Regions from separate parts of the Homo sapiens genome. Here all the other regions are linked to region 2. Evidence: fine-mapped expression QTL. A gene starts in region 2. Each other region holds a variant in brackets. All regions are shown on one strand. Distances are between the middles of the regions.

What was found. PIP is the estimated chance that this variant, and not a neighbour inherited with it, causes the effect.
Region 1: its variant is fine-mapped to the expression of NPR2 in whole blood (TOPMed, PIP above 0.99).
Region 3: its variant is fine-mapped to the expression of NPR2 in adrenal gland (GTEx, PIP 0.99).

The regions. Positions count from the first base shown.
Region 1 is chr9:35,756,346-35,759,061 of GRCh38, reverse strand. It overlaps RGP1 (RGP1 partner of RAB6A GEF complex), which reads right to left. Exons shown (of 9, transcript NM_001080496.3): 9 at 477-2,716. Among named protein-coding and RNA genes, the nearest start is that of MSMP, 3.4 kb to the right of the region's middle. RefSeq lists a silencer at 1,746-2,065. The variant A/T (reference allele first, on the strand shown) is at 1,588.
Region 2 is chr9:35,790,071-35,792,780 of GRCh38, reverse strand. It overlaps NPR2 (natriuretic peptide receptor 2), which reads right to left and starts at 1,190. Exons shown (of 22, transcript NM_003995.4): 1 at 1-1,190. The coding sequence starts at 372. It also overlaps a transcript of RGP1 not described here.
Region 3 is chr9:35,952,476-35,955,233 of GRCh38, reverse strand. No RefSeq gene overlaps it. Among named protein-coding and RNA genes, the nearest start is that of OR2S2, 4.3 kb to the left of the region's middle. The variant A/T (reference allele first, on the strand shown) is at 1,288.

The DNA.
Region 1 (2,716 bases), 34 kb after region 2:
TTCTAATCACAGGAAAGGTTAAGGCTTTGGTGAAAGCAAGCATAACTGAGTTTAAAAACAGTCTAGAATAAGAAAAGGGTAATAGAAGAGGAAGGAAGGCAGAAGTGGACCATGCAGAATAAACAATCAAGCCTAGCTTTTTTAAAAACCTGAGGTCTTACTAAAGAGAAAGGAGGAAAAACGGAAGATTTCAACATAAGAGTGTTAAAGGTGGAAAAGAGCCAGAAAGGACTGTGGGCTTAAAAAAAAAAAATCAGTGAAGCAGTAGTGGTGTATGTTGGCAAAGAGAAGTGTAGAGTTGAGAGGAGGGAGAGAATTTATAGTAGAGGAAGTCGGTGTGAAGTTTTCCTCTCAAGATGCCCAGCAGAGCAAAGAAGGAATGAAGGCAAAGGCCACTGGGAATAGAGTAGGGCTGGGGCTAAAACAGCACGGGAGAGTGCAACAGGGCCCAAAGTAAGACATTTTCTTTTCTTTTCTTTTTTTTTTCATTAATTGACCCAGATTTGCTTGTTTGGGACCAAAGGCAATGCAGAGTTTAGGGATCTTTATAATTTATAAAGTAATCACCTTTGGCCCAACATAACACAGATCATAAGGATCATGGCAGAATTCGTCTCTGAGACAAGTACAAAATACCATTTTAGAGTTGATTTTAGAAGAGAAGTCAGACTAATAAATTGCTGTGTTGTAGAAATACTATGGTGAATTAAACAGCTTTAACTTTTTCTATCAGCCACAGGATAAATACAGAAACTGTATAATTACATACACATCCACAGAAGATAGTAGCCTCATATGCTAAAATTGTGAGTTGTTTGTCTGTATACTGTAGTCCAAAGCTCCCATTCCAAGAAATGTTTTATTTGGTTCAAAATATAAAGGGCAGGTTAGAGGGCTACACAGAAAAAAGGCTAAAAATAAAGACAGTAAAATGAGGGAGAGGAAAAGTGGAAGTGCAGCACTACTGATCCAGAAAAACTGAGGCATCAGCCACAAAGAATTCAATCAAGTCAGTGAGGGGCAAATGGCACAAAAGCCAAACAAGAAAAAGGCTGAATACCATATTACCAATCTGAGAGCCTCACTTTTGGTTTTAAGTCAAATATTGAATTAGATTGTGCAACTTTTCTATTTTTATTTTTTTATTTTTAAAAATCCACCAAAATTACTTAAATCATTTGACAGAGTCATACAATTTTAAATGACTATAAAAATGTGCAGATCAGTGCCAAATTTTTTGGCAAAGGCTGAATGGCAGACAGTAATCCAAGACGCAGACAACCTTGCTTTTAAGCCATCCGTTACACAGAGACCAGCAGGCTCCCTTCTACCTGTGAGACCAAATAATCCCAAAATGTAACCAAATAATCATAACTCCCCCTACTCCTAAAACCTACCCTTCACCCTTCACTGTCTACGTCAGCCTCTGGACAGACCTGATGCCTGGGGTTTGGCCATTTCCGCCTTCCCACCCTGTGTTGGTCTCCCTCCTCCCTCCTCAGGTCCCTCAGTTCTCCCAGGCCTAACTTGGCGTGCTTCCTTCCTCTCTCACCCCAATCAATCCGGCTCTCCTTCCCTTTCTGGGTT[A/T]CGCCACCTGCCCGACTCCCGGTTTCCCCCTCGGGGGCCCCTCCTTGCCCTGGGGTCTGCTCTCGGCCCGCCAAGTTCTCCCAGGGGATCCCTCCCCACCTGCCTCCATACAGTCAGACTGTGTTCAGTGTCCGTTTCGCGCCCGTAGCGACACCACGACAGAAGCCCACTAAGTGACCCTCTGCTCCCAGAAACCCTCCTGGCTCCTCCAGACCCTCCGGGGCTCTGGCCCGCAGCTCCCCTCTCCCTCCGGCGGCGGGGGTCGGCTGTGACTCACCAGAGGGCCAGCGGCCGGGGTTGGGGTGGGGGGGCCGGAATGCTCTCACTTCCTCTCCGCGCACCTGCCCCGAGGCTGGAGCGCCGCCCGGCCGGGCCTCCGGCGGATGTTTTCCTTGTTCCCAAGCGTGTAGTGCGCGCCAGCCGCCCCCTCCGGGACCTGCGCGCCAGCCACCGCGCCCCCAGGACCCAGCGGGCCTGGTCCTCACCACTCACCCCCTCCCCAGCAGGCACGCATGCGGGCTCGACCCACACCTCTGCACCGCCCCCCAACTTCTGGGAGAGGACTCCTGGCTCAGCCCAGCCTCTAGCTTTCCAGAAGCCCCTATATGCCTACCTCATCTTCGTTATAGGCGATGAACCTTCACTTCTGTCCCCGTTTCCGCACACGCACCAATCCCCACTGGCGATCCCTTCCCCTTCGGCATCACCCCCACCTTCATGCGCCCCAGCTCCCCACTCACATCCGCCCCCTATTGGGCTGGCTCTAGCTTGCAAGAGCAGAAGGTGGCCCAGGGCCCAGCCTTCCAGGATGTCCCCTGGACCCCCTCTCTGGGAAAGGCGGCAGAGCTACTGGCCACTGACAAGACCTTTGGGCCCTCGTGCTAGACAGGCCTTCGAATCCACCTGCTCCAGCCCAGAGAGCAGGCCCAGGCCGTGCCTCCCACACCGCAGCCGACCTCAGAGCACCCTGCCTCAACTGTGAGTTTTTTCTTGGCAATCCTCTGAAACGGAAAGGGTATCAGTCCTGACTAGGGCGAACGTGAGGTCCATTCTGCATCTCCATCCACCTTAGCTGTCTCCTTGGAAAAGGACAGCAAGGGAGTTTGAGGTGCACTGACACAGTCATTTC
Region 2 (2,710 bases):
AGCACCCGCAGTCAGCAGGGGAAGGCGCCAGTGGGAGGCAAAGCGGGCCACAGAGGCAGCAGGGTACACGCAACCGGGACCTAACAGCAGGTCGGGGTCATGGTACAGCTTGAGGTCCACAGCGCTCAGCGGTGCCAGGTACTCAGAGCAGGCGCCTTCCAGTTCGGAGCTGACAAACCGCAGGTCCACGGGCAGTGCCCGGCCCAGAGCCTCCACAGCTAGTGCCACAGCGGGTCCCACCCGTGGCCAGGCCCAGGCATAGCTCAGGTTGTGTTCTGGCAGCACCACCGCCAGCGTCAGGTTCCGCGCCCCGGGAGGACGCACCCCACCTGCCAGGGCTGCCACCAACAGCAGAAGTGATGGCAGCGCCATGGGGATAAAGCAGCAGCCCCACCGCCCCCAGAACTTGGGGCTGCTCTGGCCTACAGGGGAGACGCGAGCACCCCCCAGCCTGGAGCCTGGGGAAGAGGGCCAGGAAGAGGAGGAGTAGGCTAGGTAGGCTGGGATGCAGAAGGTGCTGGGGGCCGGGGAGAGGAGGGGGAGATGGGAGGAAGGCGGGGGGCGGGCAAGGAGTGGGCTACCAGCCTAGGGCAAGGACTGAGGACTGAGAACGGGGTGGCAGGGGGAGGGAGGGACCGAGGGGGCCTGCGGCCAGGATGGGGACAGTGCGAGGTGAAGAAGCCTGATAAATCTAAAGCTGAGAAGGAAAAGGGGATCTGGGACTGGGATGGGGTGGGGGTGGGGGGCGGGTGGTACAAAGAAACGGCCTGGGGGAACCTCACAGCTGAAAGGGCCGGGAGGGCAGGAGGGCGCTGCGCCACATAGGACCAAGGGGGTAAGGTGGGAGGGTGCCCGCGCCGCGGAAGGACTGGGATCATGGGCAGGCGGGGAGCGAAGCGAGGCCTGGGCCGGAGGGCAGGGGAAGGCAGGGGTAAATCTCCCTGTGAAGGATTCTCCCGGAGCTCCTGCTTGGACTAACGGGCCCGGGCGCTGGTCCCATCCGGAGCTACGGCGGCCCCGCCCGTGTCCCCGCTCCTCTCTGCTCCGCTTCTCCTGGGCCCTGGCGGCCGGCGCTGCCCGGCGCTTCCTCCCGCCCCCCGCCTGGGCCCCGCGCGCGCCGCTCGTCCGGGTCAGGTCGCCTCGGCCCGGCCCGTCTCCGCTCGCTGCGCCGGCGGCCGAGTGCGACTCCCCCGGGCAGGCCGCCCGCCCCCGCCCCTCCCCCGCTGCCTCTCCTCCTCCCTCCCGGCCCCACCCTCCGGCGCCGGCTGCCTTCCCCCACCCCCCACCCGGGCGCTCGGGACCGCCAGGTCCCAAACCCACCCCGGTGAGCACTTGGGGGCTCCGCACCAAGGCCTCGCCGGCCAGCAGGGTTCCCGGGCGCTCCCTCACTCTCAGGGCCTACCCTGGTCTCCCCCACGCCCCTGGTCCCCCTGCCGCCCCTCCTTCCATTTCCATCTCACACACGCCAGCGACCCCAGGGTTTGTCCTCTCCCCCTCGCTCAGCCCGTTCTTCTTGGGTCTCCCCTCTGAACTCCCTGAGTCCCTCAGTGGTTCCAGTCTCCAGGAAGCAGTCGAGGATCCCCAGACGTGTGGTATCCTCACCAGCCCCCTCACCTAGCAAACCATAGCGCCCTCCCGACGGCAGTGCGGCTTACTCCACCGCGGACCATGCCCGCTCCCTGGACGGGCCCCTCCAGCAGCCAGGGGCCCCTGCTGTACACTTCCCACCAGTCCTTAGAAAGTCCACGAGGCTCCTTCTTGCTTGGGACTCAACTCTCGGCCCCCCGCTGTCTCCATGCCCCCTGCCCTCCTCGTGTCCTCAGAGGCCCACCGCAGCCCGCCCGGCTTCCTCCGCACCATCTGCTCAGTCAGGGCCTCGATTTTCTTTTGTCTCCTGCACAGCGCAGGCTGGCGCCTGGGGAAAGCCTGTAACGGACCGGCGGGACACTCCCCGCAGTGGAAGCCCATCCACGCTCTCCTGGGGTTCCACCTTGCTCCCAGCTTCCCTTAGGAAGCTCTCCCTAGGGCCCTCATATCTGGAGTGCCAATCTGACCCCAAGAACAGCTTGTGAGGGATGATCTCATGGTGGCTGAGAGGGACTGCTATGGGACCTTGGGGATTTTTCTCCAACTGTCATAAAGGACATGCACATAAGCCCATTCTCTGCCCGCGCTAAGAGCCACGGTTTCTCTCCCCCCTTCAAGCTATTTCTCCAGAAATCACAAGCTAAGAGCGCTCCTGGAGCCCTGGAGTGGGGTGGGAGTGTATAGGGCGAGGACGGGCATGGTTTCCCTGAGATGAAGGCGACACCTAGTGGTTTGGTGGGGGAAATTAAGGACAATGCCACTTTATCCTTAGGCACGATATTTATTGAACACCGGCTGCCTAGCACAAGCTGTACCTGTGAATACAAAGAAAGCCGAATGATACAGCCCTTACCTTTGAGGAACATGCATTTGCAATCCCTGGGGCACAGAGGCCAAGAGCAGGCCGTCCCTAACAATGTTCTTGCCTCAAGCCCAGTAGAGATGGAAGCCTCAGGACAGCTCCTTCTTTAACGCAGAGGGGTTGGTAACTCTAGTTCCAGGCTCCCAATACTGCAGTGAAAAGGAATTTTGTCCTATCTGGCCAAGGCAAAAAAAAAAAAAAGGAACAGTCAAAAGAATGACGAGACAACATGAGAAATACTTTAGACCAAGTCAACCAAAT
Region 3 (2,758 bases), 160 kb before region 2:
ATGTTGCTAATAAAATTTCACTATATTGTGTTAGTCTAAGGTTCTGATTTCTACTTGCCCTAGAAGAGAAACGATCTTGCTACTGCAGATACACAAGAGTGACATCTAGTGGCCATGCAAGCCAACTTCAGACATTTACAGAGCCATGTCGTGTTTTTAGAGGCAGCTGCACAGGTCTCTTTCTTCACCGCTAACTGCATAGTTCATGGAGTTTCTCTCCAATATCCCTGACCCCACTCATCCAGCATCTGCTTGGATACCTCCAGTGATAGAGAATTAACACTTCCAGGTTCTAGCTGTTTCATTCAGCCCTACTAGCAAATTCTTCCTTGAATTGTGCTAACATATACGTGTCTCCATTAACATCTGTCTCCGATAGCATCTTCCAGTCCTAATTCAGCTTCGTGCCTTTACATGAAATACACCTTATCTCTTCTTTCTTCCGATATATAAAGATTGTTCTCCTGGTTCCTGGGTCTTTTTCCCTCCAGCATAAATAGCCCGCATACTTCCACCTGTGCCAAAATCACCCAGTTTACCCAACTGACAGGTACTAAATTGTGTCCACAGTATCATCTAATTCCAGTGTGATATTTCTGAAAATACCTTGGGAATAATAATGATGGTGCTAAGCTAACTCTGTTTCCCCAGGGCAGTGGAGATCTGTCTGGCAGAGAGAGATACTTGAACAAGCCTGCCTTCTTGTGAGGCTGTCCTCCACTCACTTTCTCTTCCTTGAGGAATGGCAGTCATATCCATTTATATTATAAATTACATTATTATAGTGTAACTGTTGAGTCAGAAATTACATTGCTTCCTCTAGGAACAGTGGCACCTTTCACTCCCACTCTCTTTTGGGTGTCAAGGGGAGGCAAAACTATTATATTATTATACTTAATCATACAGACAAATGTATTATTTTAAAAATCACAGTTCTGGGTTAGTGGGTGCTTTAGGCTTTTACTCTAGTGACCAAATGCCCTACGAAATCTTTAAGTTAAAACTCCAAATATAAAGTATATCTGCTTTGGCTGAAATGGAGGTGGGGGGCAGAATAGATGTGGGGGCCAGGGGAGGGAGTTGGGCTCCATCTGCTCAGCCCACCCTTCATCCCCATCCCCAGGGTCCCCAGTCCACAGACACCACCAAACACTAATCTGATCCAAACCACTGGTGCCAAGAAAAGTAGACATTTTGTAAGGATATTTTGTTCCACTCCCAGAAATAAATGTGAAAATTTGGGGGGGAAATTTATATTCTAAGAAAAAACAGATTACCCAGTTAACC[A/T]TTAAAAAGATAGACAACTTAAAATACCAATTACCTAAGGAGAAGTTGACAACTTGTCAGTTACCACCTTAAGATGTTCCAGGCCATCTGTTTCCACAGATGAGTGGTAATAAACATTCAAGGAACAAAAGGTTTTTAATACTGTTTAAACAATTTCAGAGAATAAAGTGAGAAAGATATCTTCCAAATTGCTTTAACCAAGCCAGCATAACATTGATGCCATACCATTAAAAACATAACAAGGAAGTACAGGAAATGAAAACACCACCTTTTCCTTTCCTATCTCATCTATTTACCTACGTGTGTATGTATGTAGATGCACGCATACATATAAAATAGAATTCAGCAGCACATAGAAAGAATACTAAACCATAGCCTAATGGACTTATTTTTAAAAAATAAAGCTAGAATAATTTAAGGATATGTCTTGGTATAATTCTCTACGTTTATAGGTTAAATAGATCCTCAAAACTATTGAAAAAGTTGAACATGAATTTCTTAGTTTTAAATTCCTTCTAATAAAATAGGAATGGATGTGTTCTTTAATAAAATTAAATTTATATCTCTAGTGAAAAGTATGTGTCATGCGTAATGGTGCATCAAATCAAATCTGTTACACTTTAACCCTTTTCTGGATATACCAACCATTGAATTAGAGAGTAGAGATAAATAAATAAAAGGTGAAACTAGAAGAAAGGTAAAGAATAATTTTATTATTATTGTTAGCTGATACACTCATAATTTTATACCTGGATAAAACAGTAAAATCAATCAAAAGGCAATTTTGAAAAACAGTAGGAGAATTCAATAACGAAGCTGCATAAAAAATTAATATGCAAAAATCCAGGTTCTAGAGGGGAAAGGGGGAAAACGGAAGGGGGAAAGAGGGGAGGAGAGAGAGGGGAAGAGAAAAAAGAGGAAGAGAGGGTGAGAAGGAGAAAGGGGAGGAGATTTGGGGGAAGAAAAAGGAGGAAAGAGAGAGGGAAAGATGAGGAAAGAGAGAGGGAGAGACAAGGAAAGAGGAGGAGAGGGAGAGACAAGGAAAGAAGAAGAGAAGAAGAGACAAGGAAAGAGGAAGAGAGGGAGAGGGAGAGAGAAGGAGAGAGATAGAGAGAAACCGGTTGTCTTGGACTCTTGAGTCTTCAGCAGCAGTCATCACCGTCCTCCCTACCAGCTAAACAGGGCCTTTTCTCATCTTCTAGCTTGAGGCAAAATCTGCCTTTTTCTCCACAGTGATGTCATAAGAAAAGATCACAGTCGCATAACTTGTCCCCTTTCTAGCAATAAGAACCCGCATATTTCTTTCAGGGGGAAAGATATGGAAGAATTTTTATAGGGACTATGCAGCAAGATTTTGAAATAGAGATTTCAAGTGGTTTATCATAGAAGGTATCTAGAACACAATCCTATAGGGATTTCATGGATCATTATCAATTCTCTGTCTGTCCCTAATCAGATTAAACTGTGTTGT